3 linked regions of the Homo sapiens genome follow. The protein of the gene in region 1 binds, or shares a complex with, the protein of each later gene. Links are inferred from orthologs where the notes say so. Each region holds a gene or a part of one and is shown on either strand. Other genes may lie near its edges.

Evidence for each region.
Region 2: the proteins of CAST (region 1) and CAPNS1 are in contact, whole or in part, in a crystal structure (PDB 3BOW), measured with the Rattus norvegicus proteins. The link is inferred for Homo sapiens from one-to-one orthologs. Residues at the interface, in NP_445747.2 of Rattus norvegicus: Pro652, Ile653, Asp654, Ala655, Leu656, Ser657, Asp659, Leu660, Asp661; in NP_058814.1 of Rattus norvegicus: Phe103, Leu106, Gln109, Leu110, Ile125, Lys128, Val129, Arg132, His133, Leu136, Phe166, Trp170, Lys174, Gln177, Lys181.
Region 3: the proteins of CAST (region 1) and CAPN2 are in contact, whole or in part, in a crystal structure (PDB 3BOW), measured with the Rattus norvegicus proteins. The link is inferred for Homo sapiens from one-to-one orthologs. Residues at the interface, in NP_445747.2 of Rattus norvegicus: Glu571, Leu572, Asp573, Ala575, Leu576, Asp577, Glu578, Leu579, Ser580, Ser582, Leu583, Gly584, Gln585, Arg586, Gln587, Pro588, Leu596, Asp597, Asp598, Lys599, Val600, Lys601, Glu602, Lys603, Ile604, Lys605, Ala606, Glu607, His608, Ser609; in NP_058812.1 of Rattus norvegicus: Glu62, Leu63, Ser68, Lys69, Gln99, Gly100, Ala101, Leu102, Gly103, Trp106, Lys161, Asp162, Leu165, Leu166, His169, Ser196, Gly197, Gly198, Thr200, Ser241, Asp243, Ile244, Thr245, Asp249, Ser250, Glu251, Ala252, Val253, Val259, Lys260.

Annotation. Positions count from the first base shown.
Region 1 is NC_000005.10:96,762,552-96,772,135, reverse strand, and holds part of CAST (calpastatin), read right to left. Parts: exon of another isoform or gene 8,937-9,584; coding exon of another isoform or gene 8,908-8,936; intron 6,916-8,907; coding exon 6,811-6,915; intron 6,084-6,810; coding exon 5,991-6,083; intron 4,699-5,990; coding exon 4,654-4,698; intron 4,339-4,653; exon of another isoform or gene 4,230-4,338; coding exon 4,137-4,229; exon of another isoform or gene 3,743-4,136; coding exon of another isoform or gene 3,705-3,742; intron 1,606-3,704; coding exon 1,534-1,605; intron 493-1,533; coding exon 457-492; 3' UTR 434-456; intron 1-433. Other genes in the region: ERAP1 (endoplasmic reticulum aminopeptidase 1), read left to right, coding at 3,705-3,742.
Region 2 is NC_000019.10:36,135,156-36,144,882, reverse strand, and holds the start of CAPNS1 (calpain small subunit 1), read right to left. Parts: upstream 4,818-9,727; 5' UTR 4,726-4,817; exon of another isoform or gene 4,618-4,725; intron 3,894-4,617; exon of another isoform or gene 3,887-3,893; 5' UTR 3,872-3,886; coding exon 3,663-3,871; exon of another isoform or gene 3,319-3,662; intron 3,258-3,318; exon of another isoform or gene 3,205-3,257; coding exon of another isoform or gene 3,200-3,204; intron 2,584-3,199; coding exon 2,550-2,583; intron 2,232-2,549; coding exon 2,142-2,231; intron 1,975-2,141; coding exon 1,917-1,974; intron 1,820-1,916; coding exon 1,755-1,819; intron 1-1,754. UniProt on the Homo sapiens protein: Regulatory subunit of the calcium-regulated non-lysosomal thiol-protease which catalyzes limited proteolysis of substrates involved in cytoskeletal remodeling and signal transduction. Essential for embryonic development.
Region 3 is NC_000001.11:223,706,727-223,716,621, forward strand, and holds the start of CAPN2 (calpain-2 catalytic subunit), read left to right. Parts: upstream 1-5,812; 5' UTR 5,813-5,914; coding exon 5,915-6,151; intron 6,152-9,895. UniProt on the Homo sapiens protein: Calcium-regulated non-lysosomal thiol-protease which catalyzes limited proteolysis of substrates involved in cytoskeletal remodeling and signal transduction. Proteolytically cleaves MYOC at 'Arg-226'.

The sequences.
Region 1 (9,584 bases):
CCACCAGACTCTAAAGGGTACTTCTCCCCACCCCACCATGTATTGGTATTCTGGGGAATGCCAATGTCTTCAGGACATTTCGCTAAGTTGTAACATGCTAATTTTGCTTTGCCACAATAACCTGCAGTAATGAGCATTTGGATTTCAAAGATTCAACTAGCCTCAGATGGTCATTCTAAGTGCCTGGCCTAATATTTTTAAAAGCTTTTAATTATAAGATTAAGGTTTTTAAACATTTCAATAGCAAACTCATCCCATTTAGTGCTTTCAGAGAATGACCAATTACTCTGTAGATCTTGCAGTATGCATTTCATGCCAATACTGTAAAGTGAGCATGAATTACTCAAGAGGTGGACTTCACTTCTCTCATCTATAACACATAAATTGGCAGAAGATACAGTTGTCTTCATTTACAAATAAACACCCAACTTACCAGATACCTTAACTTGTATTTCTTTAGTCATCTTTTGGCTTGGAAGTTTCCTCTGTTGTCTAAAAGGGAAAGCAAAACCATCCGTGAGCTTTCTTTTCTGTATTAAGTATGAGGAGATGGCCTTCTCAGAATTAGGGGACAAAAGATGGCAGTCAGTGGGGAAAAATAAGATGGTCCTTTCAGTTTCTCTTCTTCATCTGGCCACAATATTGTGAGTTCTTCCTCCTCAAGCTTATAAGCTAAAAATAACCTTAAGTGATCCTGATCCTAAATGTATCACTCTCAGCTTTATTTTTTTAAGGCTAGGGTAGGTTATAAAATATGCATAGGTGTTCTTAAATGGCAATGTTTCATTCTGTGGTGATCCTTCCTTTCCTGTACATAGGGTCATGGCTGTCCAGTAAATCCACTCATCATAAAGGGTTATTATGCTTTCTATTATTTGTTAAAGGGCTGATTAAGTACTTCGTATAACTGAAATTAAATAATAGGCAAATAAGTATTTAAACTGAGATATAATGGCATAACTGCCAATTATCAATGCTGTTTCCTATATCCCTTAAGGGAATCTACTACAGGAAGATTTTAATATATTGTTTTAAAAGCTTTGGTGTAACTGGACTATTGTCTTTAAAGCTACACCTTTAACTCCTCCTTATAGCCAGGGGATCATAGTAATAATCATTTAAATCATATGTTCTTGGAATTGGAAGGGACCTAGAAGTTGTCTAATCCAATTTTCATTTCTCATCACAGCTTGAGTAATTTTAATAATAGGAAGTTTCCAACTTCCATGTTCTAAAATCTATATAAACCACATACTATGGTGGTATTTTAATTAGGGCAAGAAAGACAGGCAAAACACAGGCAAATTGGGTTGTGTCAAGAACATTCATTTAGGATTTTAAAGCACCAGTTACTTAAAAATATATGTATTTATACAAATTCAATTACTTTACCAAGCGATGCTATGGGATAGATAGTACTTTAAGAAATTTTATTCTAAATAGATTCCAGTAGGAAACTAAATGACTGAAATGATAAACCCTACTCTGTGTAACTGCTAAACTAATTTGTAGTATATTTACTGCTCCATTTACCTTTGCTGAATCCTTCGCTTTACCTCCATTCTTAGGTGCTTTGGAGCTGGAAGCAGCCTTCTTGCACTTATCCTAAAGCAAAGGAAATGTAATGAGGCTATGGCTATCACCAATCCATCTAGCAATTAACTAGGCTGCAGTTAAATTAATCCAGACCATTCTGAGATCTCCAATTTAATTAAATAATGGAAGACTTTGGGTGTTTTTTCATGATTTTTTTTGAACAACGGTGTCAGAGAATTGTTTAAAGCAGGAGGGAAAAAGGATAGAAATAAGGAGGGAAATGTGGGTGACATTGATGCTCTAATTCCCGTGGTGCCTGACTCACCCAGACCTTATTTTGCTAATCAAAACAGAGCTTGTCAATAGATAATAAATGTCGGCAAGGGTGTGGAGAAAAGGGAACCCTAGTACACTGTCAGTGGGGATGTAGATTGGTATGGGCTATGATGGAAAACAGTATATAGGTTCCTAAAGAAATTAAAAGTAGAACTACTGTATGACCCAGTAATCCCTCTTCTGGGTATATACCCAAAGGAGATGAAATTATCACCTTATAAAGATATCTGCACTCCCATATTCACTGCAACATTACTCACAATAGCCAAGATATGGAACAACCTAGTTGTTGATGAATGGATAAAGAAAATGTCATGTATATATACATAATGGAATATTATTCAGCCTTAAAAAACGATATCCTACTATTTGTCACAACATGGATGGACCTGGAAGACCTTATACTAGATGATATAAGCCAGACACAGAAAGAAAAGTGATTTCACTTATATGTAGAATATATATAAAAGAAAAAGCTCAAAAACACAGAGAATAAAACATGGCGACCATGGTAGGGAACAGGAGGAGGAAACAGAGATATAGGTCAAAGGATACAAAATAGCAGATATGCAGAATGAACAAGTGTAGAGAGTTAATGTATAACATGAGGACTAAGGTTAATAAAATTGTATTAGGGATTTTGTTAACTAAGTAGATTTTAGCTGCTTTTGTCACAAAAAGTAGTTGTGTGAGAATGATAGATATGTAAATCTGCTTCCCTACAGTAACCATTTTATTATTTCTATGCATCCCAAACTACCATGTTGTAAACCTCAAATATACACAATAAAATGTATTTAAAAAACAAAATAGAGCTTGTCTCGATCAGGACTGGCTTTTGTGTACCAAAAGGCAAAAAAAAAAAAACAAAAAAAAACCCTGTTTTCAGTGTTATGGGAGAGAAATGAACAATGGGAAACAACCGAGGAAAGCTGGAGCAGGTTACGTATAAAAATAAAGTCCATTCACCAAAAAAGGCATTACTTACGAGTTACCAGGGGTGAGAGATAGGATGCTGAAGTGGTCTAGAAATTAAGCTACCCAGTATGGAAGGGCTGACAATTCAGTGATCGAGAGCAGTGCCTTAGAACAGCCAAAACAATAGCAAACTGAGATCTGCAGAATTAACTCTCCTGAAAATAACAAGGAGGTACTCATTTCACGTTTCCTTCTATTTGATTTACAAGAGGGTGTAGCTTGAGGGAAAATGCCTCACACTTGTTGAATTACACAGTTGTTTCTCATTCACTTTTAATCACGTTTTGAGCACCTGCTAAGTACCAGGCATTTTGCTAATGAGGAGCACAGAGGTAAAAGACACATCACTACTGTATGAAATGCGTAGCTCAGTGGTGTGATACACAAGCACAGAGAGGTAACAGAGAGCAAGGAGGGCATGGAAGAGAGGCCTCTAACTTTGGACTGGGAAGGGAGAAGATGTAAGACAAGAAAGTCTTCCCTAAGGAGCTGATGCTTGAGCTGTGCCCTGAGGAATGAAGAGTAGACCAGTTGGGCTAAGCAGACAGAAAAGGGGAGGAAGCTCCAGAGAGCAAATGAGCATGAGAGTGCCTGATGTAGTTAGGGCCTGCTCTCACTTTAAATGAACACAGACATAGCATTATTGTGGCACAACCATATAGTGTGGAGATAAAAAATGGTGGCTATGGAAATTACAAAGTAGCAGTTAAGAAATAACGTTAAGCAGTGTTTTATAAGTGGACTGTAAGTATAATTATGTAAAATATACATATAGAAAAAAAAGGAAATCCACAAAATAATACTGTTTTGGGGGCAGTGGAATTATAGGCATTTTTTCTTTTCTTCATTTTCAGGTTCTCTATATCATCGTTTGATTCATTCTACAGTTTAAAAATTGTAAGGGCCAGGCGCAGTGGCTCAAGCCTGTAATCCCAGTACTTTGGGAGGTAGAGGTTGGCAGATCACTTGAGCCCAAGAGCTCGAGACCAGCCTGGCAACATGGCGAAACCCCCTCTCTACAAAAAAATACAAAAATTAGCTGGGTGTGGTGGTGCACGCCTGTAGTCCCAGCTACTCAGGAAGCTAAGGTAGGAGGATTGCTTGAGCCCAGGAAGCAGAGATCGCAGTAAGCTGAGATCACACCACTGCACTCCAGCCTGGGCTATAGAGTAAGACCCTGTTACAAGACAGACCGATAGATAGATCAATCAATAAATAAAACTTATATGTATGTACACATACACACACACACATTTCAAAGAGTGAAATGTGAAAAAGCACAGTACCTTTGCTGTGTTCTGTGAGGTTTCTGTAGTGGAGGGACAGCTGTCCAGATCTCCTGAGAGAGCATCAATGGGGTCTTGGTCATCTGCAGGTTTCTGAGATATGAGTAGAAATAACCATCAGTGAAGAAGCAGAAGGCAAAATGCAATATGGGGTCTTTTCCCACATCACTTACAAATAAAAGATGTTTCTATAAGAAAAAAACTGACTGACATTCTTTATTAATAATAATGTATTGTAAAGGAGATAGAAAAACAAGAAAATCTTGATGGCTTTTTTTCCATCTACTCTTTAATACACGTTGCTTAGCATTCTCTGAGCCTCAGTTTTCCACCCTAAAGGGCTTTTGTGAAGACTAAAAGAGAGGTAAACAATAGTCACACACATTTATATGCATGCTTTGACAAAGTACCAGGCACAGAGTAGGCATTCAATATGTTTTAGTTTTCTAAAATGCCAAATACCCCTATGGCTAGAATAAAACAAAATTTAATGGAAATATGTTCCTATGGTCTTTACCTTTGAATCCTCTGATTTCTTTGTAGGTGGCTTCACTGGTTTGTCCTTAAAAAGAAGGCAGACTATTGGTTAAGCATAGATATCTGTAAAGGTTTACTTAGGTTTAGGCAGTAGAGAATCTATTGTCCCATGACTTGACTTGGATAAAATGGAGTGTAGACTTGCAATAACTAATAAACCTGAGTCCCCACTATTTCTTTACCAGCTTTGCTTAATTACTATTCTTTATAATCATTTGTGTAGACTTGGGGGAAACATATGAAAGGGTCTGGTCCTGGAAGTGAAAGAAACACTATTTGTGAACCTTCTGCCATCATGTATTATCACTTATAATTCTACTTAAAGTGTTATAAAAAGTTACTTGTGTTTTTACATCTTATTTACTATAGCTTATTACACTTAGAAAGTCATCAGGGATTTTTCCCAGCTTCAAAGGCAAGGGCCTTAAATAATAAATTTCCCAAAGAACGCAAGCAGGGTGAGTTGGTACTATCAAAGTGGGAAGGGCTCTAGCAGGATGTGGAATTGCTATCTTGAGGAATACTGAATGCAAGCAAGGAGAATTGGTTCCTGTAATAGGAGACCCTGAAGCTGACACTGCTATTTAAACCAGGAATCATCTTACTCACCAAAATGAATCAGTACAGAAAGAGAAGGGTGTAATTTGGTCTTCCTTGTTTCTTATTTGATGAACAGGCATGGAAAGGGTTATTTATCATCTAATTGACTCAAAAATTAGAAACTAAATAGGAAAGAGGTGGGGGACAGGCCTGGTTGACCTACGAAAGACTGGCCTCTATCATGTGGGAGACAAAAGGCCAGGGACTTTTTGGCAGAGAAACAGGATTTGTGATTGGGAATATTGCTTTGCCTGTCTTCACTTGCAATAGTGCTGATGATGATGCAGGAGAAGATAGGGAGACCCCAGGTCTTGGAGCTGCCTTATTAATTTTCCCTATTAATTATCCCAACACCAGCTCCTTTTCTGCTCTCCTTAAACAGAGATTGCTTCCTTTGAAATCCTATCACCTTAGTCATTTTTATAGCCTTTTCTTGAAAGAGAGAATCACATTTCTTGGATCACTCTTAAGCATCTGTGAGTGACTGAACAGTATTCAACCCTGTTTATACCACAGAGCCTAGCATATGCATATATAATGATATTGGCTCAAATAAATATTTACCTGCTGGTCGGCTTTGGTGACACATTAGAAGCAGTCAGTCATGGTATGTTTTATGCTATTGTAAAGGAGTATAGCTACTATTTATTTCAAGGGAGGTTTGAATTTAAAGATCTTGGTAGCATAAATCCGATCTAGCAATTTGCCTCAGTTTACCTGTCCATTATCATCCAGGAGATGTCTGTATTCAGGTGGGATAGTGTCATCTCTTTCTCCAAGCTTGTCTCTATGTTCAGCTTTAGCTTTTTCCTATATCAACAGTGAGCAGATAGAATTAATATTCATTTCCTCTTTCACTTAGAAAATACATTGTCAAATGCAGCATTCAGCATTTGTTGTACTTTCATGAGGCAAAACATATGGTCTGTTTTTATTTTTTAAGCAACAGAACAACACAGATGACTTCAACAGACTGCTAGTTGGCTAAAATATAAAATCCCGTATGCTTCTGTATGTCAATTCATATCTGTGAATTTTCTAGCTATATTTTAAATGGAAATAAATGATTAAATAATTATCTTCAGAAACCATGTTAGGAGATTAGAACCCAAAGGTATAAAATATCTTTTTCTTTTTTTCTGTATGGTTTCACTTTTCTAATACAAAATCAGGCCACTGTACCTTGCCATTTAGAGAGGTCACATTTACAACTTTGCCTATTTATAAGCAACCCTGAAGGACAACAGCTAATTTGAATGGATGTGCTGACTGCTTGTGTTGCATGGGAGGAAGCCATGCATACCCCACACCTACCTCCCAGAATCCCCTCAGGGAGGCTCCGCTGGTATCTCTGTCACAGATTCAGTGACCTTCCCCTCCAGTGGAGTACAGATTGATTTTTCTATTTCATTATAATTTCATGTTTAAAATATAGGTTAAGTTCACATCAATATTCCTATGACAATGACAGAGTCAAGACCCAAGGATTAAAATTTCACTATTAGTGAATTTTTTTTTTTTTTTTTTTTTTTTTTACCTTTACTTTATCTTCCATTGGTTTGTTCTCATCTGGGTCAGGCTGCCTTTGTCCTAGACTGTCAGAGAGTTTATCCAAGGCATCATCGAGGTCTTTGTCACTCTGCTGAAAAGTAAATAATGCTGAATTAGTCACTCATTAGCCAAACTGTATCAGAGGCAAATTAGCCCAGGAACTCCATCTTTTCAGGAGGGAACCTGTTTCCTTGGAAGAAAAAGACATCTGGGGCTGGGGCAGGGGAGTAGACAGGGTCAGAGAAGAGAAGCCTAGGAATGGAAGATCAGGAGAAGAGCGGCAGTATCTGTCACCCTACTGGGGTTGGAGGGCCAGCACCTTCCACCCAACCCTGCCCATCTCTTGGTGAAGATCCCACCAGGTTAAGGAGGTCTTAGTGGCAGCCTCAGGAGCCATATCCAGTGGGTGACCTGGAGGTCACATAAAGGGTCCAAAAGCAAATGAACCAATCATGTGTGCCTTTCATTTAGAAATTAAACACCATTAGAAAACTGGATATGAAAACAAACATCTACTAATGTTGTCAGATGGTTAGGAAGCAAGATTCTGCAACTATAGAGGGTAAGTGTTTCTTTGGTTCTGTGGGTCCTCTCTAAAACTCTAAGATCTTGAGGGGTGCATTTCAGAAAGTGCAGCGTGACCCGCAGTTTGTGGGAAGCCATGGAGCTCGGCACTGCCATCCTAATACTTCCTAAAGCACAAAACCCCAGAGACAATCTGGGGTCAGGAGAGTGGAAGGGGCTTGTCTGCCACACTGGTGATGAGTGCCCTGAAAGACTTCAGAGAATTTCTGAACTGGTGGGGAAACCTCTCTTTTCATCTTCAGGAAGCTCATGGAAGTGAAATTGCAGAAATGGGAGCTGGTATTCTAGAGGAAAAAAATTATGGACAACAATATCACTGTAACTAAGATAGCTTATTTCCTCTAACATTTATTTACTGTATGATTCAGGCAGCTTATTTAACCCCTTTCAGCTTCAGTTTCCTTGGCCGTGAAATGTGAATAATAGTAGTACTTATACTCCTAAGTTGCTGAGAAAAGTAAATGATTGAAAAGGCATTTAAAACAATACTAGTTGTATGTTAGGACCCAACAAATGGTAAATTATTATTAGTATTATTATAGCAAAATCCATATTTTTCAACACATTGCATTCAAAATTCCACCTCTAAATGAATTCAATTAAAATGTGTTTAATATCTACATTGTATAAGACACCATGCTGAACTCTGTCCAATACTGTATAGAACTTTCCAGTTGATTTTCAAAATGTTTTCACATACACTATCCAGTTTTATTTGATGCCCACAATGGTTCTCAGTGAACTAAGCAGGCTTTTTTTTTTTGAGGTAAAAAGCTCAGGGAAGCTAAGTCAGTTGCTTGAAAACAAATTGTTAAAAAGTGAATAGAACCCAGGTCTTGGGACTGATAAAGCTTTTCCCTGTCATGCTTAGTCACATCCATGATCTTCTATTTTCTTTGAAGCAGTTTTCCTGTTGGAGTGATTTTATTACACAGATCTTTGAAATCATGTCTTCAAATGCTTTCAGTGTATGTAACACTGTTAGTAACAATCTAATAATCACAGCAAAGAAAGCTCCCGTGAATTATCATGGTTTATTTGACTCTTCGATTTCCTAATATTTTTATCTAAATAAAGCTTTATACCTTGTTTTAGTGACATCTTCAAATAAAATGTTAACTAAAAACAAGCCTCTCTGATGGGAAATGTGATCAGAGAAGTGTCATTGTAAAACCTACTTCTTAAAGGCAAAAAAGTTTTTGATTGCAAATGTTTACTGATAGCCTTCATCAGGGCAGAATCTCTGGCCTGAATATTAAGAACTGAAGTGTAAACGGCAGCCTAGGCTATTAATGATTCTTCCTTTCTGTTGCATGGGGACTTTCTTCATTGTGGGTGTGTTTACATACACACATGCACATGCACATGCACATACACACACACGGGGCATTTTACTGGTTTTAAGTGCTTTATTATAATCCAGGATTATAGCTGCTAATGGTAGAGCTGCCCGGGGCCAGGTCTGGGCTTTGTCATTTGTGCCTCTGGATATTTTCAGATGATCCTGAAGCTGACGCAACAGGATGAAAATCCATCAGAATCTCAGACTACAGCACTAAATATGCTTTGATGCTACATCAAACGGAATGGAAGCATAGCTGACTTCGCTAAAGTTACTTCATCTCCATCTAGCAAATGAGGCACTGTTCTCAACCAAAGGAGATGGGGATCTGGTTTAGGGCAATCCCTTTATAATTTGATGTGCTGTGGTCTCCTTGGTAATGTATAATTTGGTATTGCACAGGTGATTAGTCAAGGAAGTCTGGAAAAGCTTTGGTCCCACAGCCTTGCCTCACAGCATGTAAATAATTAAAACAATATTGATGCTGAGGTTCTTCTACTGCTAGTATGAAAGTGACAAATTTTTACTGGTGTGAATTGGGAAGAAAACAATGCTATTCCATGACGTTTGTAAAATGTTTGTAAAAGCTCAAACATGACGATTCCATAAAATAAACTTGAGGTTAAATAATGGGTAGTAAATTATAGAATGTATAAGAAAAAATATAAAGGAGAAAATCAATTATCAGGAAAGCTAAAGAACTTTTCAAATCTAGTAATTTGAATATAGACACAATGCACTTTATTGCACTTTCAATTCTTATAAAGCAACAATAATATTAAGGTCCTTGACTATGTGTACAATGTTTTCACATATATAGTTTCATTTAATCA
Region 2 (9,727 bases), on another chromosome or scaffold:
CCTTTTGGATGTAGTTCCGATTCGGTATCACCATTATCACTCACCCATTTTACAGAGAGAGAAACTGAGGCACAGAGCGGTTCAATAACCTGGTTAAGAGGTAGAGTTGGGATTGCTTTGCTCTATGCAATATGTCTGTGATTACATGACATGTATATTATGTATGTGTCTGTTTGCCCTATGTGTTAAATGTGCATGAGGCCAGGCGCAGTGTCTCAAGCTTGTAATCCCAACACTTTGGGAGGCCAAGGCGGAAGGATTGCTTAAGGTCTGGAGTTTGAGACTTGCCAGGTCAATATAGTGAAAGCTTTTCTCTATAAAATATTTTTTAAAACAAAAATAAATAAAAATATGCATGTATCCAAGATCAGCTAATGGCTGGCCCATGTACAGATAACACGTGTGTCCCTGTGCACACTGCCTCATACACCTTCACGTATGTGGGTGTGCTCTTAGGTGTGTGTGTGTGTATATGCGCATGTGGCTGTTATAAACGTGGGTTCTCAAGCCCAAAAGACCTGAGTCCACAGACTGGAGTGCAGTGACGAAACCTCTGCTCACTGCAACCTCCGCCTCCCGGGTTCAAGCAATTCTCCTGCTTGAGTAGCTGGGACTCCCGAGTAGCTGGGACTACAGGCGTGCACCACCACGCCCAGCTAATTTTTGTTATTGTTATTTTTCTTTTTTTTTCTTTTTTTTTTTTTTTGAGACGGAGTCTCTCTCTGTCGCCTAGGCTGGAGTGCAGTGGCGCGATCTCGGCTCACTGCAAAGCTCCGCCTCCCAGGTTCACGCCATTCTCCTGCCTCAGCCTCCCGAGTAGCTGGGACTACAGGCGCTCACCACTGCACCCGGCTAATTTTTTTGTATTTTTAGTAGAGACAGGGTTTCACCGTGTTAGCCAGGATGGTCTCGATCTCCTGACCTCGTGATCCGCCCGCCTCGGCCTCCCAAAGTGCTGGGATTACAGGCGTGAGCCACGGCGCCCGGCCTATTTTTATTTTTATTTTTATTTTATTTTTTGAGACAGAGTCTGGCTCTGTCGCCCAGGCTGGAGTGCAGTGGCGCGATCTCGGCTCACTGCAAGCTCCTCCTCTCGGGTTCACGCCATTCTCCTGCTTCAGCCTCCCGAATAGCTGGGACTACAGGCGCCCGCCACTACGCCCGGCTAATTTTTTTTTTTTTTTTGGTAGAGACAGGGTTTCACTGTGTTAGCCAGGATGGTCTCAATCTCCTGATCTCGTGATCCGCCCGCCTCGGCCTCCCAAAGTGCTGGGATTACAGGTGTGAGCCACCGTGCCTGGCCAATTTTTGTATTTTTAATAGAGATGGGGTTTCACCATGTTGGCCAGGCTGGTCTCAAACTCCTGACCTCAGGTGATCTGCCCACCTTAGCCTCCCAAAGTGTTGGGATTACAGGCATGAGCCACCATGCCTGACCTTTATCTATAACTTGAGACAAATGACTGCTTCTTTCAGGAAACTGAGCCTCAGTTTCCTCTTCTGTAAAATGGAATATAATAATTGTGCCTGTCCAACAGGGTGGTTATGACGGTTCGGTCACTTTATATAATTAAAGTGCCAGCTGTGACAGCTGGCATTGTTATGATTTACCGCCACATGTCTGCAGGTGACTGTGTTCTGATGAATGCATTTCCACATCTGTGGATATGAAAGCTACATGTTGGCTTCCCAAACATACTCTCAAAAAACTCTCTGTCCACCCAGGGCCTCTCCCACACTGCCCCCAAGGATACATCCATCACGGCCACCATGCTGCGACATGTGTCAATGCCAAAACCATCAGTCTTCAGATCAGGGTCTGTGGGTAACAGGTTGAAAGTCAGAGGCCAGAGGTCAAATCCTCTCTGACCCCTCTGCCTCTGAATCTACCCTATTCCTTAACCCCGGTCACTTACGTCGTGTCACAACCTTATTGAGAATGTTCATGAGTTCTGTGGCGCTGACCTCCATGTCCTGCGGGCGGAAGTTAGGGGCAGGTCAGGGGTGACTGAAAGGGGTCTGAGAATGTCATGGAGAATGGGAACACTGGGATTGTCATGGTCAAGGGTGTGTGTGCAAGGGCAGCCACAAGGGAAGGGATGGAACGGTTAGGACGGGGCCAGGGACCCCAGGTTACTTACATCTCCAGCCAGCTGGGCAAAGAGTCTCCGGAACTGCCGGACCTCCTCACTCTCGTTGGCCTCAATGTTGGAGTAATGTGTGCGTGGGGGCTGCAAAGGGAGGAGAGCTCAGAGCAGGGGGAGGGGAACCCGGCCAGGACGGCTCCCCAAACCCAGGTACCCTGGGTGGGGAAGTCAGAGTGGGCTGGGCAGCTTGATGAGGAAAAGAATGAGGGGTGGTAGTGAATGGGGTGCACGTATGTGGGGCATGGCTAAGACCCATGGCGAAGCTGCAGACACGGCATGGGAGGAACTGGCAGAGGAATTTCACAAGAAGGGGAGGAAGGTGGGGCTTCTCTACAGGAACAGGGATGGGACCTCGAAGAGGCCTTGGCAGGAGAAGGGGGTCTGGTTGCAGAGGGGGCTTACCGGGGGCTCCGGGTTGTACTGCGCAGCCGCCTCGCTGCGAAGAGATAAGGGGGAGGGGTTAGTGCCAGGGGCGGGGCCTCCAACGGGCAGCACTACAGAACCATCAGCCCCAACGCTCCAGACCCCAGCCGTTATCTTCCTTACTTGGTTGCTGTGCCTTTCATTTGTTCTTGTCCTCATCTGTCCCAATCCACACTGCCCTGGTCGTGCCCCTCTTCTCCCTTCCTCAGGCCAACCCCACCCTCGAGGAAACCCAGAGACCGGTCCCCTGGGAGGCTCCCCTCCTGCCAGGCACACCTACCCAGTGGCAGATTTCAGTCATCTTGGCCACCCTAAACCTAAAAAATCCCACGTAGAATCAAAAGACCCCGCCCCTTGGAGGGCTCACTTCATAGAGGCTCTGCCCCAGCTTCCCAAGGCCTTATCCTCCTCAGGTGCCATCTGCCCAAGACCCTACTCCATGGCCCGCTTCCTAAATGCCCGTCTTCCCAACATCCTACCCCAGCCATTGGTCCCCGCCCCTTCAAGGGATCACTGCTAAGTGGCCGTGGCTAATTAAGCCAACCTGCCCTATCCCTACCAGGGCATTTTTCTCCATTAATCCAGCCAGTTCCCAGCAAGCCCAGCCCATTCTGGGCCATTTACCCTACCCCATTAGGTCTTGCTTCCTCCTGGGCTCACCTCCTCATTAACCCACCTAAAACCTCTGACCACACTCATAAGTCAAGCCCCTTCCGTAAAATGTCACTCAGACGCATTGGCTCCGCACCTTTAACGTTCATCTCCAGGTTAGCCAATGCAGGCTGAGCCCAGACCCATAAGCCCCACCCGCCAAAACTCCACATCAGTCCCCTCAGGACCACATTGTCCTGGTCCCACACAATCAGACTACTCCCATATCAAGCACCGCCCCCAATGACTGATATCCGCCTCACTGGGGTCCACCCCCTTACAGCAGAACTCTCAAACCAGGCCTCCCCGGCCTAATTCATGTACCCAGGTTAGCCTCCAGGTTAATCCTATTCTATTTTTAGACCACGCCCCTCCCAGACCACGCCTCACTGAGGCTCCTCCCATTCCCAGGCCCCGCCCCTCTGATAGTCTCCGCCTTACCTGATGGCGCTGATGACTCCGCCTAGGATGCGCATGGCCGTTCCACCGCCACCGCCGCCTCCACCACCGCCGCCGCCGCCGCCGCCGCCGCCGCCGCCCCCGGCCCCGCTGATCAGGCCTCCAAGCACATTTCCCAGGCCCCCACCCAGGCCCCCGCCTCCCCCGCCGCCGCCGCCGCCGCCCTTCAAGAACGAGTTAACCAGGAACATGGCTGCGACTCACTGCTGGGGGGAAAAAAGGGGACCAGTGGGTGCTTCGCCCCTGAGCCCACACCCTCCCTTCAAACACGCATTTCCGGCAGCTGGACCTGGGAGGAATCTGAAGCCTCCGGGTGGGGGTCTGAGTTTGCGAGGGCGGGTTGTCCGCGGATGGGTGGGGCAGGTATGGGGGATCAGGTTTGCAACCTCCTCAGGTCTAAAAGGCACCCGTGGGGCTTGAGGGAGCCTGGACTGGGTGCACGCGTGAAGGGGAGGGTGCAGATCTGGTGGGGGTTCTCTTGGTGGGGACCCCAAGTTGGCGTAAGGCGTTCCCGACATGTCTGGGCGCTAGAATGTGAGATCCAGAGCCCAGCCTGAATGTAGAGGTCCTTGGCAGGTCATGGGCGCGGAGCAAACATCCACGGCCTAAAGGGCCCCAGGGCGGGGTTTAGGAAATCCCAAATGTGGGCTTGAGAATTTAGGTATTCCCAGCGGCAGGATTCCAGTGTCACCTCTGGCTCTGTGGGCTCGGGTCTAAGATCGTGGCTGTGAGCTCTGGGTTCCCGGACAATGGGGTTCCCCGCTGGAACTGGGGGCACAGATCTACGATCGCGGTTCAGGACACCCCAAGGAAGAATTCACAGGGTATCTCTGAAACCTATGGGCCTGTATTTTGGATCATGAGACAGAGGGTGGAGAAGGGTCCCCGGGACGGCATAAAAGGAGATCGAACAGGTCTGAGGGTTCGAATCTGAGACCATGGATCTGGGGGGCTCCTGAGGCCGAGACTTCACGGTTTCGCCGGGTCTGGGGGCCGCCAAAGTCGGAGTTGCGGGGTGCGGAGGGGGTACGGGCCGGGCGCTTACCGCCGCACACGTCCGGAGTTCTGGGAGTCGGTTCCACTGCCGCTCCCGGGCCTCCCGCAGCGTCCGGCTCCGGAGGGCGGGGCCGGTGACTCAGGCCGCAACTCTCGGGTCGGACACTGCACCGCGGCCCTGCTGTCGCCCGCGCGGTCCTAGAGCCGAAGCGGACATTGCGCATGCGCACCCCACACCGCCCGGCTAGCTGGATCCAGGTCTGGGCCCCGCCCTACGCGTTTCCAGCGCCGGAGGTCTTAATCCCGCCCTGACTCGGTAGGCGGGGGTCTTCCCGACACCCCTCAGGTCTGGGTGGAGGCACCCGCGGACGAGAACTCGGAGGGGACCCACCCCCCGAGTGTCGTAGTGTGAATTTTCACCCTAGGGCATGCCAATATCCTTCCAGGGTGGCGGTTTTCGGTCCGCTCACTAAGGGACTCCGCACGGGCCCTCTGCAGGTGTTGTCGCGACAAACACCTCCTGGAGGCCTGGAGTATGGTTTGACTCACACGCTGGGGGACAGTCGCCCGTGTCTGTGGCGAGGATTGAGGCTGGATTGCCTTTCCCAGTGCCTGCAGCAGCCCGGATGGCAGTCAAACCGCAGGCAGCGCCTGCGCCGCCTCCCAGGCGAACCTTACCACGCCCCCGCCCCAGTCAGGGGCCACCAGAATCATTCCTTCCTGGACTGGCCCAAAGAGTGTCCTCAGTATGCTAGCCTCTAAAGAAGGCCCCAGACACAGGAAGATTCCTTTGGCCACGGCCTGGTTTCTTTATTTACTTAAAAAATATTATTGTTTTTACATAATAGAGACGGAGGTCTCGCTATGTTGCCCAGGCTGCTCTTGAACTCCGGGCCTCAAGCCGTCCTCCTGCCTCAGCCTCCCAAAGTACTGTGAGGTACTGGGATTACAGGTATGGGCTACCGGCCTTTTTTTGATTTAATTTAATTTTTTACAATAATATTTTTACATAGCCTGGTTTCTTTTCTTTTCTTTTCTTTTTTTTTTTTTTTGTTTTGAGACAGCGTCTTGCTCTGTTGCCCAGGCTGGGGTGCAGTGGCGCCATCTCAGCTCACTGCAGTCTCTGCCTCCCAGGTTCAAGCGATTCTCCTGCCTCAGCCTCCCGAGTAGCTGGGATTACAGGCATGCACCACCACACCCAGCTAATTTTTGTATTTTTAGTAGAGACGGGGTTTCACCATGTTGGCCAGGCTGGTCTCAAACTCCTGATCTTAGGTGATCCACCTGCCTCGGCCTGCCAAAGTGCTAGGATTACAGGCATGAGCCACGGGAGTCCAGTACTTTTTCAGGACTCATCGGGGGGAGCTAAATCTGGCCCCCAGGCAGGCTGGCTGGCTCTTATCCCCTACCCTGCAGGCTGGCTAGGCTTGAGTTGAATCCTGGCTGTGCCCTGTAATAACTGCACAACCCCAAAAGAGTGGCTTGATATTCCTGAGCAGCGATTTTCTCATCTGTAAAATGGGAACATGGGTTGCTCCATACCACTAGGCCCCCTATCAAAATTAAATGATATCTGCAGCAATACTGATTATTAAAAAAAAAACTTAAGTGGTGGCTGGGTGAAGTGGTTCATGCCTGTATTCCCTGCATTTTGGGAGGCTGAGGCAGGAGGATCTCTTGAGCCCAGGAGTTTGACTCCAGCCTGGGCAATATAGTGAGACCTTGTCTCTACAAATAATACAGAAATTAGCTGAATGTGGTGGCATGCGCCTAGTCCCAGCTACTCTAGAGACTGAGGTGGGGGGATCACCAGAGCCCAGGAGGCGGGGGTTGCAGTGAGCCGAGATCATGCCACTGCACTACAATCTGGGTGACAGAGCGAGACTCTGTCTCAAATAAATACTGGGCACAGTGGCTCATGCCAATAACCCCAGGACTTTGGGATGCTGAGGCGGGCAGATCACCTGAGGTCGGGAGTTCGAGACCAGTCTGACTAACATGGAGAAACCCTGTCTCTACTAAAAAATACAAAATTAGCCGGATGTGGTGGTGCATACCTGTAATCCCAGCTACTCGGGAGGCTGAGACAGGAGAATCGCTTGAACCCAGTAGGCAGAGGTTTCAGTGAGCCAAGATTGCACCATTGCACTCCAGCCTGGGCAACAAGAGTGAAACTCCGTCTCCAATAAATAAATAAATAAATTGGTGATAAATGCTTTGTAAATGCCCCCATTAGCTCTGTGTCTGTGCTCATGCTGTTCCCTCAGCCTCGAGGCCAGCTGTATTCCTCAGCTGGTAGACTCTTAGTCTTCCTTAAATAGTACAAAAACAGGCCAGGTGTGGTGGCTCACGCCTGTAATCCCAGCACTTTGGGAGGCCGAGGTGGGCAGATCACTGAGGTCAGGAGTTTGGGACCACCCTGACTAACATGGTGAAATCCTGTTTCTACTAAAAATACAAAAAATCAGCCAGGCGTGGTGGCGTGTGCCTGTAATCCCAGCTACTCGGGAGGCTGAGGCAGGAGAATCGCTTGAACCCGGGAGGCAGAGGTTGCAGTGACTCGAGATCGTGCCATTGCACTCTAGCTTGGGCAACAAGAGCGAAACTGTCTCAAAAAAAAAAAAAAGATACAAAAACAAGTAACCATCAACCACTCCTCCAAGTGCTTGACGTCCATCAGTTCCCTTGTTCTCCTAACAGCCCTGTGACATAGATGCTATTTATTATCCCCATTTTACAGATAAGTAAACCGACTCTGAGGTTAAACCCAAGCAGTCACTCTCCCTAGCCTGTATCCTTAACCACTACCCTTATGCGTTAATAATATAATTAATATAATAGGTCAAATAACAACATCACAACAGACAAAACTAGTTGCAGCTGATGTTTCCTGAGGCCTTGCTGGGGCCAGGCCAAGGTAACTGCTACACAAGCCTTGTCTGCAGGGCAGGAGAGAGAATGGAGATTCTGAAAGGCAGGGTCACGGAGGGTGGCAGAACCAGATCTGAACCCGGGCTTGGCACAGATCTTTTGGTGATGACTAATCCAGATTCCCTTCTCACCACACCCCTCCCTGCCAGACTGACTGCTCCAGCTCTCTGCCCTCTCCCGAGGCTCACTTGCTGCCAGCCCTCATGCCCTCGGCCAGGAACTCCCCTGCTGCCTTTTTTTTTCTGGCCTGATTGTGTAGCTACTCAGGCTGCAGGTGTCACCTCAGGAGTCATCTCTTCCAGAAAGACCTCCCTGTCTCCACCCAACCTGAGACTAGGTGAGGCTTCCAGTTATATGCTTTCAAAATGACTTGTACTTTCTCATGGCACTCACTGCCAATCGTAACCATATTGTCATCTAGTTCTGGCCCCCAACCCCTTATTCCCGGCAGCCCCAGGTGTTAGGTCTCTATCCTCCTCTCTGTACCACTCATGCCATGGGGTGCCTCCCCTACATGCACAGCTTAAATCCTGTCTCTAGGCTATCAACGCCCAGTTTTTTGTTTTGTTTTGCTTTCGAGATGGAGTCTCACTCTGTCGCCCAGGCTGGAGTGCAGTGGCGCGATCTCTGCTCGCTGCAAGCTCCGCCTCCCGGGTTCACGCCATTCTCCTGCCTCAGCCTCCAGAGTAGCTGGGACTACAGGCACCTGCCACCACGCTGGCTAATTTTTTGTATTTTTAGTAGAGACGGGGTTTCACCGTGTTAACCAGGATGTTCTCGATCTCCTGACCTTGTGATCCACCCGCCTTGGCCTCCCAAAGTGCTGGGATTACAGGCATGAGCCACAGCACCCGGCCAACGCCCAGTTTTTTGTGTTGTTCTTAGAGACAGGGGTTCTGTCACCCAGACTGGAATGCAGTGATGTGATGTAGCTCACTGCAGCCTGTAACTCCCGGCCTCAAGGAATCCTCCTCCTGCCTCAACCTCCTGAATAGCTACTGCTACAGGCACAAGCTACCACGCCCGGCAAACATCCAAATTTCCTTTATCTTTTTTCTTTTTTAATTATTTGTAGAGATGAGGTCTTACTGTGTTGCCCAGGCTGGTCTTGAACTCTGAGCTCAAGTGATCCTCCCACCTCAGCCTCCCAAAGTGCTAGGATTACAGGCGTGAGCCACTGCACCTGGCCCTAACCCTAACCCCCAAATTTCTATCTCCAGCCCAGACACCTCCTGCGAACTCCAGGCTCCTACATCCTGCATCATATTCACCATTTCCATGGGAAAGGATGGAAGATCTCAGAGGCTTTTTTTTTCCTTTTTCTTTTTCTTTTCTTTTTTTGAGACGGAGTCTTGCTCTGTCACCAGGCTGGAGTGCAGTGGCGCGATCTCGGCTCACTGCATCCTCCACCTCTGAGGTTCAAGCAGTTCTCCTGCCTCAGCCTCCCGAGTAGCTGGGACTACAGGCATGCGCAACCATGCCCAGCTAATTTTTGTATTTTTTAGTAGAGACGGGGTTTCACCATGTTGGCCAGGATGGTCCCAATCCCTTGACCTCGTGATCCACCCGCCTCAGCCTCCCAAAGTGCTGGGATTGCAGGTGTGAGCCAATGCACCTGGCCCTTAGAGGCATTTTAAGCTTTACATATCCTAAACTGAGCTTCTGACCTTCCTCCAGAACCTGCTCCCTCACTACCTTCCCCACCTAGGTCAGTGGCAGCTCTGTCCTTCCAGTGACTGAGGCCAAACACTCCGGGGTGGTCCTTCACCTCTCTCCTTCACACCCACTCCAACCTGTCAGCAGATATTATTGGCTCCACCTACAGAAACTAAACTCTTCCCCTCCACTGTCCCCACCCTGCCACAGCCTCCATCCTTTCCCACCTGGACACCCCACAGCCTGCTCCCTTCTGTCTGCTCCCTGCTGTCTGCTCCTCTTGTGGAGCCAGAGGAAGCCTGAGACCACCTGAGTCAGGTCAGGGCCCTGTAGGCTCAGAGCCCTGCCCTGGCTGCACCCCACTCCAGGAAAGAGTCAGAAGTTCTCACAACAGGGCCAGGTGCGGTGGCTCATGCCTGGAATCCCAGCACTTTGGGAGACTGAGGCAGGAGGATCGCTTGAAC
Region 3 (9,895 bases), on another chromosome or scaffold:
AATAAAAACTGAGACTGACACGTGGAGGTGCAAAATTAAAAAGGAAGCTTTGGTTAGTATCTCCAGAACCTGGCTAGGCACGGTGGCTCACATCTGTAATCTCAGCGCTTTGGGAGGCCGAGATGGGTGGATCACCTGAGGTCAGGAGTTCAAGACCAGCCTGGACAACATGGCGAAACCCCGTCTCTATTAAAAATACAAAAATTAGCTGGGCATGGCAGTGAGCCCCTGTAATCCCAGCTACTCAAGAGGCTGAGGCAGGAGAATTGCTTGAACCCGGGAGGCGGAGGTTGCAGTGAGCCGAGATCACGCCACTGCACTCCAGCCTGGGTGACAGAGTGAGACTCCACCTCAAAAAAAAAAAAAAAAAAATCCAGAACCTGCAGATTGTGCCTCTGATGCATCTCAAACATCCAGGGCCAGGGAGAAAATAATCTAAAGAAAAATACTACTGAAAAAGATTCCATTGCCATGGCCCTCTGAGACACACACATTCTTATTCTCTTATTTTCTCTCTCTCTCTCTCTTCTTCTCTCTCTCTCTCTTTCTATCTCTCTCTCTCACTCCCTCTCTCATTTACTCACAAGGTCAGTGGCCCAGACCCAGGCAGTTCTGGATAATCCCAGCTGTTTCTGACTCACCACCATCCTCAGGGCTGGCTGACTCACTCCAGGAAGGTTTTCCACCATGAAGTGTTTGTCTATGTCCTTGTGTTCCCGTGAAAAGGATTGTGTGGTCAGAGAAAGAGAAGACTTTGCTGGGTCAGTGAGATAGCATAGTGTGAGAGGCTTTGGGAAGTAGAAAAAGCAACATTAACTCAGGTTTAAAAACTAGACTTTGTCCAAATGGTTGGGGAAAGTAGTCATTGTATGTGTTTGCAATTAAATTTGGGTGGCATAGGACAGCCTAAAGCCCTTTGTAAGCAGAGCTCTATGTGCGCAGCGATCCCTAGAAGGCTGGCAAGGGGAGTGGCCAGGGCTGCACCAAAGAGGGTGTTGCCTAGCTGGGGAAGAGGAACTTCAGGTGAGCCAGGAGGCTCTTCTGCTCCCAGGCTGTGCAAAGCTTCTGAGTTGACTGGAATGATAGGTCTGATCTGCCCATTTGTTGCTAAAATGACTTAGGAGGGAAATGACCTCCACCTGCCTGGGAGGAGTCACTTCCTCCAGAGATGAGCTGTCCTTGAGGAGATCAGTGGGAGGAGAAGCCTGCGCTCTGCCCCACTGGGCAGAAGGACAAGCTTTCTCCCAAGAGCCTCGAGCCCAGAAGAAGTCGGGGTGGGGCCAATGGAAATCAGACAGTGGAACAAATGAACAGCTTCCAGGACAGGGCTGTCGCTTTCCTCTGTTTTCAATTGTGATGGCTTCATGAAACCCTTGCACCAGAAACCCATGAGCTAGAAATGAATGCCTGTATCCCCATCTCTGGACTCAGAGTCCAGAGTGCCAACCATTACACAATGGAACCTGTGTCCCCGCCTTATTCAAGAGTAAAGAAAGCAAAGCCTGGTGGTGGACGGTGGTACCTGCCCATCAGGCAGCATGCCCAGACTTGCAAACCAGAGATGGAGGATGTCAAATAAAAACAAAACCATGGGAGACTGAGGCAGGAGAATCACTTGAACCGGGAGGCGGAGGTTGCAATGAGCCAAGATCGCGCCATTGCACTCCAGCCCGGGCAACAAGAGTGAAACTCTGTTTAAAAAAAAAAAAAAATCCAGACTTTTATAAAGGGACACTTCAATAGAAAGAAAGACTATTGCAGGCCAGGCGCAGTGGCTCACACCTGTAATCCTAGCACTTTGGGAGGCCAAAGCAGGTGGATCACCTGAGGTCAGGAGTTCAAGACCAGCCTGGCCAACATGAGGAAACCCCGTCTCTACTAAAAATACAAAAAAATTAGCTGCACATGGCGGCTGGTACCTGTAATCCCAGCTACTCAGGAGGCTGAGGCAGGAGAATCACTTGCACCCGGGAGGCGAAGGTTGCAGTGAGTGGAGATTGCACCACTGCACTCCAGCCTGGGCAACAAGAGTGAAACAAGAAAGAAAGAGCGAAAGAGAGAGAGAGAGAGAAAGAGAGAAGGAGAGAAGGAGAGGAAGGGAAGAAGGGAGGGAGAAAGAAAGAAAAAATAGAGAAAAAGAGAAGGAAGGAAGGAAAAGAAAGAAAAGAGAAGAGAAAAGAAAAAAAAAGAGAGAAAGACAATTCCAATTCAGAGAATCTGCAAGCAGCTCAAAATCAAACAGAAAAAGATTCTTCTTTTCTAGGGTAAAGGAGGAGCAAGTGGAGATAAGCAGACTCTTGGGAGGGGAAGCTGGACAAGTGAGGGGAAATGACCAGTGGGAGCTGACAGGAAAAGGGTCTTGCTGTGTTCAGTCAATTCCCAGGAGAAGCTGGGCAGGGAAGTGACTTGGCAGGGACACTCCACTTTGTTTGTGCTTGTTCAGGCTTGGGGGCAAGCAGCATTCAGGGATCTGTAGGAAAGAGAGAAGTCTGACCAAAGTTTTGTCAAGCAAAGGGGGTAAGCAATGGGTGTCAGAGACAAGAATAGATGGGGGCAGAGGAATAATAGTGACAAAAATACTTGCTTTAAGAAAAGGTAACATCATGGCTCTCATATTAGTATAAAATAAACACATTTTAAAGATTCCATTTCGGCAGGGTGCAGTGGCTCACACCTGTAATCCCAGCACTTTGGGAGGCAGAGGTGGGCAGATCACCTGAGGTCAGGAGTTCGAGACCAGCCTAGCCAACGTGGAGAAACCCTGTCCCTACTAAAAATACAAAATTAGCCAGGCATGGTGGCAGGCACCTGTAATCCCAACTACTCGGGAGGCTGAGATAGGAGAATCACTTGAACCTGGGAGGTGGAGGTTGTGGTGAGCCGAAATTGTGCCATTGCACTCCAGCCTGGGCCAACAAGAGTGAAACTCCATCTCAAAAAAAAAAAAGAGTCCATTTAACTTGATTAAACGAGGCAATCTGGTGGATGTTATAACTGGTTCAAAGGAGAAACCAAAGCAGCACAATTTACATGACGTGAAGAGTACTGAAATGGAATATGCAACTAGACAAAAAACTGGTCTCTCTACAGGGGGACTGTAGTGCCTCTACTGGACAGAATGCATTTGCATATCTATAGGAAAAATTATTTTCCATTGCTACAGTTATCTACAACTTAGATTACTTACTTAGAGTTACTTAGGTAACTATACATTGCTACAGTTATATACAACTTAGAGTTATAAAATAACTCAAAAACAATGAAAGGGGCTCGTGTGGTGGCTCACACCTGTAATCCCAACACTTTGGGAAGCTGAGGCAGGCGGATCACCTGAGGTCAGGAATTCGAGACCAGCCTGGCCAACACGGTGAAACCCCATCTCTACAAAAAATATAGAAAATTAGCCAGATGTGGTGGTGTGCACCTGTAATCCCAGCTACGTTGGAGGCTGAGGCAGGAGAATCGCTGGAACCCGGGAGGCAGAAGATGCAGTTAGCTGAGATCGTCAAGATCCTGTCACTGCACTCCAGCCTGGGTGACAGGGTGCTACATCTCAAGAAAAACAAAAACAACAACAACAACAACAAAAACAATGAAAGGCTAGACCCAGATCTTCTGGAAGGAGATGCTCTAAACCAGGGTTTCTCAGCCTCTACATGACTGATGTCTTGGACTAGATCATGTTTTGGGTGGAGAATGTAAACCAAAAATAAAATTCTAAGCCTCCCCCTCCCCTACCCCCGCCAACCATCTAAATGGATGGTTCCTCCTTAGCCGAGGCTCTTAAAATTTTAACCTGAAATTTTCAGGCCATGAAGGAAAGGCAAGGTCGGACATGCTTCATTATACCTCTCCAGCGTGAACATCAACCAGAGTTTAGGTCTGATAAGAAACATTTTACTGCCTGTTCACTCTGAAGCCTGCTAGCTAAAAGCTTCATCTATGTGATAAAACTTTTGTCTCCACAACCTCTTATCGCAACCCAAACATTCCTTTCTATTGATCCTGGGCCTTTAGACAAACTCAACCAATTGTCAACCAGAAAATGTTTAAATATTTACCTATATCCTGGAAGCCACCCCCACTACCCACCCACCACCCCCCGCCACTTTGAGTTGTCCCGCCTTTCTGAACCAAACCAATGTATTTCTTAAATGTACTTGACTGATGGCTCTTGCCTCCCTAACATGTATAAAACCAAGCTGCACCCCAACCACCTCGGGCACATGTCCTCAGGACTTCCTGTGTCACAGGTGTGCATCTTCAACCATGGCAAAAGAAACTTTCTAAATTAAATGAGACCTGTTTCAGATTTTCTGGGTTCACAAGAGCTATCTTGGACATTGGAAGATGTTCAGCGGCATCCCTGGCTTCTACTTAGTAAAGGCCAGTAGCACCTCATCTCCTAGCTGTGACCATAAAAACTATCTCCAGACATTCCCAAATGTCTCCTGGGGTGGGTAGGGGACAAAACTGCCCCCAGTTGAGAACCACTGCTGTAGACCATGCACAGTTTTCCAGTGAAACCCAAATTCTTCCCTACTACTGTAGAGAAGAAGAGGAGGTAATTTCTGCCCATCTGCATTTCTTGGCACGCACCCATGTCTCTGTGTGTGAGATGAGAATCACACCCTAGCTCCACAACAGAGTGGTCACAGTAGCCAACACAGGCAGTATTCTAAATGCTCTCTCCCTATAGTAACCCAACTAATCCTGCCAGTTAAATATGAGTTTCAGGTAAACAATGAATCATATTTTCTTTTAGAATAAGTATGTATGCCCATGCAATATTTGGGCCCTACATATACTTTAAAAGTATCTGTTGTTTATCTGAAATTCAAATTAAACATTTGGGAGGGTTGTTGTTTTATTGGCCAAATCATTTTATTTTATTTTATTTTTGATATGGAGTTTCGCTTTGTCACCCAGGCTGGAGCGCAGTGGCGCGATCTCGTCTCACTGCAACTTCTCCCTCCTGGGTTCAAGCGTTTCTCCTGTCTCAGCCTCCCGAGTAACTGAGATCACAGGTGCCTGCCACGACGTATTTTTAGTAGAGACGGAATTTCACCATGTTGACCAGGCTGGTCTCGAACTCCTGACCCCAGGTGATCCGCCTGCCTCCGGCCTCCCAAAGTGTTGGGATTACAGGTGTGAACTACCGCACCCAGCCTTATTGGCCAAATCTGACAACCCTATCTATAATCAAATAAACAGCTGAGCAGTAGTAATTGCAGCATTGTGATTGCAATAGGCCTCCGGTGGCTTAGAGTCCCTGTTCTGCCTGTGACTGTTGTGCCACATTGGGGACGTCATTTAGCGTCTCCGAGGCTCAGTTTTCTCATCTGTAAAATGGGGACAATATCAGCGCCTTCTTCAGAGTCGCTGGGAGGATTAAATGAGATGATGTATGCAGAGCCGTTAAGACGCTGTTTGGCACAAAGTTCAGGGCAGCTGGTTTAGTTTCCTCGACTTCACTACCTGACCCTCTGCTAACTCCCCGGGTGTTTTCCGGACGGCCACAACTATCCTAGCCTTCTTCCCTATGGGCTGCAAAGGTGGCCTCGGGTTCCGGTGGGAGCCCCAACTCTGGACCGCGATTCGCGAGCCTCCCCGGCGCCGGGCCGCGCCATCCCGGGAGCTGTCCGCAGATGGCAGCACCGGCCCCGGGTCGCGGCGTTCCCGGCGCTCGGCAGGCCGCAGGATGGCCTGGTCCCGGGCCGGGAGCCCAGCAGGCCGGGAGCGGCTGAGGCCACACCCCGCGGGCCGGGCCGCTTCCCTCCGGTGAATCATCGCTCGCAGCGGCGGCGCCCGCAGTGGCCGCAGCAGCGCGCCGGGCCCTGGCCGCGCCCCAGCCGAGCGCAGCGCGGAGTCGCCCCGACCTTTCTCTGCGCAGTACGGCCGCCGGGACCGCAGCATGGCGGGCATCGCGGCCAAGCTGGCGAAGGACCGGGAGGCGGCCGAGGGGCTGGGCTCCCACGACAGGGCCATCAAGTACCTCAACCAGGACTACGAGGCGCTGCGGAACGAGTGCCTGGAGGCCGGGACGCTCTTCCAGGACCCGTCCTTCCCGGCCATCCCCTCGGCCCTGGGCTTCAAGGAGTTGGGGCCCTACTCCAGCAAAACCCGGGGCATCGAGTGGAAGCGCCCCACGGTAGGAAGCGCGCGGCAGGACGCGGGCAGGGCGGGGTGCCGGGCAGGGCGGGGTGCAGGCCGGCCCGCGGCGCGCTGGGGCGGGGGGCAGCCCGGGTGCTGCAGTGGGGAAGCCGCAAGCCAGGACCTCGCAGTCCTGCGACACCTCCGCGCCGCCAGAGCCCGGGACTCTGTTCGAGCGTGGGGGGACTCCCGGGGCCTTCCCTCTCTTCCACCCACCACGCTTTCCTGGGCGGGTCGAGGCGAATCACTGCCCTCAGATCCCACTAGCAGGCCACTTTAGGACTTCACAAAAACTCAGGGTGATGCAGGAGGCCGGGGTGAAACTTTGATTGGACTCTAGCGGGGAGCTGGAAGGGAAGGGGAATCGGGTCTGCAGGGAAGGGACGGTGAGAGGCAGCATCTACCAGACAAAGTCCGTCTCCAACTGGGGTTCTGTCTGTTCATGGAGGGGGACAGGCCATAGCCTGGTCATTTTGTGACTAAGGATAGTCTCCTGCAGCCCTGGGGTTAGATTTATTTTTCCAAAGGGGAGCCAGCGATACCTCCTCATAACATTGACACTGGTAATTAACCCAGGACACGGAGGTGTCTCATGGTTTCCCTGGCGGGAATCACCCGGGAAACCTCCGGGAGCCCTCCAGACCCCCTTATCCCGTCCCCCAGGGTCTCTGACCTCCCGGCCCTGGGACAACTTGTGCTCCCCAATCTACTTGTCCATTCTGTTTCTTGGGGAACCCCTGAGGCTCCTCCTCCTTTGGGACACTTCCCCAGGCTTCCCCTACCACGCCTAGGAAAGCCTGCCCTGAAGTCCAACTTCTAGATTCCTGTTGTGAGAACAAGGCTTCCAGCTCTGCTTCCACACCCAGCAGCCTCCCAGGTCACCTTCTGTTACCCTAAATCCAGCCCATAGGTAGCAAGGGCTGCAGGAAGCGCCCTAGCCCAGACTCAGAGCACTTGGGTTCTTCTTCTTGCTAACCTGCTGGTGACCTTGAACGAGCCATTTAACCTCTCTGTGCCTCCATGTCTTCATCTAAAAGAAAACATGCTGCCTAAATATTTTCTCTCTTTTGTGGCCCACTAGGCCCTGCCGTCATGGCCTCCTTTCAGTCTCTCAAAGAGCCGGTTCTTTCCTGCATGAGGCCTTCTCACCAGCAAGGCACGCTGTTACCTGGAGTGTGGCTCACTCTCATTCTTCCCAACTTAGTCACATGTTCCCTTCCTAAAGAGGTCTTTTCTGACCCTTCTTAGCAGCCACCTCCCCACCTTGTTTTTCTCTGTCACCCCACTCATTTCCTTCATAGCATTGTCACAGTTTAGAATATAATCACATGTATTTGTTCTTCCTACTGAACTGCAGGAATCATGTGTATATTATTTACCAGTATATCCCCAGTGCCTGACACATAACCATGCCTTTCACAGTATTCATTCATTCATTCATTCATTCATTTACTCACTCATTTGACAACACTGATTGAGCACCTGTTACATGCCAGGCACTGTCCTGAGAGCTCAGGAGATACACCAGTGAACACAAAAGAAGTGACTGTTTGTAGAATATGGATGCAGGATTGTAATGTGCCTCAAATGAAATTATGGTTGTGAAAGTGATACGCTGACCTGACTCAGTGCCTCACACCTGTAATCCCAGCACTATGGGAGGCCAAGGTGGGAGGATCGCTTGAGCCAGGAGTTCAAGACCAGCCTGGGCAACACAGTAAGACTTGTCTCTATAAAAAAGTAAAAAAAAAAAAAAAAAAAGTGAAACACAAACCAAGAGAATGTGTTCACTTTACATTTGCATGGCACTTTACAGTTTACATAGTGAGTTCACATACTCATTCACTTATTCTTTCATTCATTCAGTAAGCATTTCTCGAATACCTACTATATGCTGGGCACAATGCATATGGTTTCTGCTTCTGAAGACTTACTTCTGAGGCTAGTGAGGGGACAGAGACAGGTCCCCCAACAGTTGGAAATGCCTGTGGGACTTCCAGATGAGGATGTAGAGGTCTAGAGATGATCTAGCGCCACTGCTTAGGGCAGGCGGGCTGTGCACTGCACAACTAAGGAAGAGTGTGACTTTTACGATCCCCATTTGCCAGTTGAAGAAATTGAGGCTTGGGAAGGTTAAATACTTGCTCAGAGTCAAGTGGATATAGGGCATAGATCCAGGACTGTGTGTAGTCTGTGCATGTTGAGCCTACCCCTTATGGCTGCGCTCTCTGCCTCCTTCCTACCTTCTCAAATGCTGCTGAGGTCAGGCAAGGGGAGCACAGTTGTTTCCGCTGGATTTGAACACTAGCAAGTCATTGGTGAGTTTAGCAGAGCAATTTCAATGGAAAGGTGAGAGTAGAAGCCAGATTGTTGTAGACTCCAGAGTAAAGGAACTGGAAATTAAGAACATGATCAACTTATTTAAGAAGGACCCCCGGGAAGAGAGGAGAACTGATAGGTAGAGTAGGACCTGGACTTTGAGAGCCTGTGTTTTTTTCATATGAGAACAACTTGAATGTGTCATATGTTGAATCACCAGGAAGAAGGGATTAAAGATAAAGGCAGGGAGGGGGCAGTGAAACAGGATCCCTGAGGAAGTGAGAATACGGGTTGTGGGCAGGGGAGGGGAGCAGGTTAGCCTTGCAGCAGGAGGAGCTGCTCTTCCTCGGAGAGAGGATTTCACAACACTGGCAAGAGTGGCTCCAGTGCCTGGAGCGGGGATTAAAGCAGTAAGTCCAGTGGGGTCCAAGGGCCATGCAGGGGTACAGTGAGGAGAAAGCAGGTGTGATCCGGGTGGCACATCAGATCCTTCCAGCAACCAGTCTGTTAGGAGCAAGGGCAGATGTTGTGAGCCCCTATGTTTCCCCCAAGAAAATCAAACCTCTGAGAGGTTTCTCACTTGCTTATCTTCAGCTGGCCGAACTCAGCCTCAAACCCATATGTCCTGTCTCCAAGTTCAGTGACTGTTATCATCAACTTCTTCAACAGTAATAATAATAGATCACATTTATGGAGTGCTTGCCAGGGCATGTTTACATCATTATCTCATTTAACACTCAGAACAATCCTCTGTGGTGGGTGTTTTCATCGTTCCCATTTTGCAGGTGAAAAAACTGAGACTTCAAAAGGTTAAGTGACTTCCCAGGGTCCTACGACCTACATAATAAGTGGCAGAGCCAGGATTCAAACCTAGGTTATCAGAATAATGCAGCAAAGCCCAAACCCTCAGCCCCTTTTCACTGACTGGTAAGACCCATATTTAATTCGATGCCCTACATGCCGTGCACAAGTTTCAGTTTTCTGAAGCATCGCTTAGATGCTTAGGTGTTTAGCACCACTCTGAACTCTGACTTTTCTAGAGAGGCTGCTAAAGGCATTAGAAAGTTTCTGAAGTATAATGGAAAAACCCTGCTGGAGTAAGTGCCTGGCACACTCAGGATTATCAGTGTGATTCTTTATAATAAACAGGCTCCCAGCACCAAGCCCAATCTATTCCATCAGCTGGATAAGAGCTCTCTGGCAGGCCTTGGGCCAAGCTGGCTTCCTTTGCCTCAGCAGAAGAGCATTCTGATTCTCTCTGCCATCCCCAAAACTGACAGGAGCAGAGAGAAACAAGGCAGAGGCATGAAGGGAATGTCCTCTGCGGCAGATGGTGCTTCCGGAAGAGCTCCCACAATCTGAGCTAGAATGAACAGGGGCTAGATCCAAGTCTCATATAGGCATACTTCTGCTTGACAGAGTG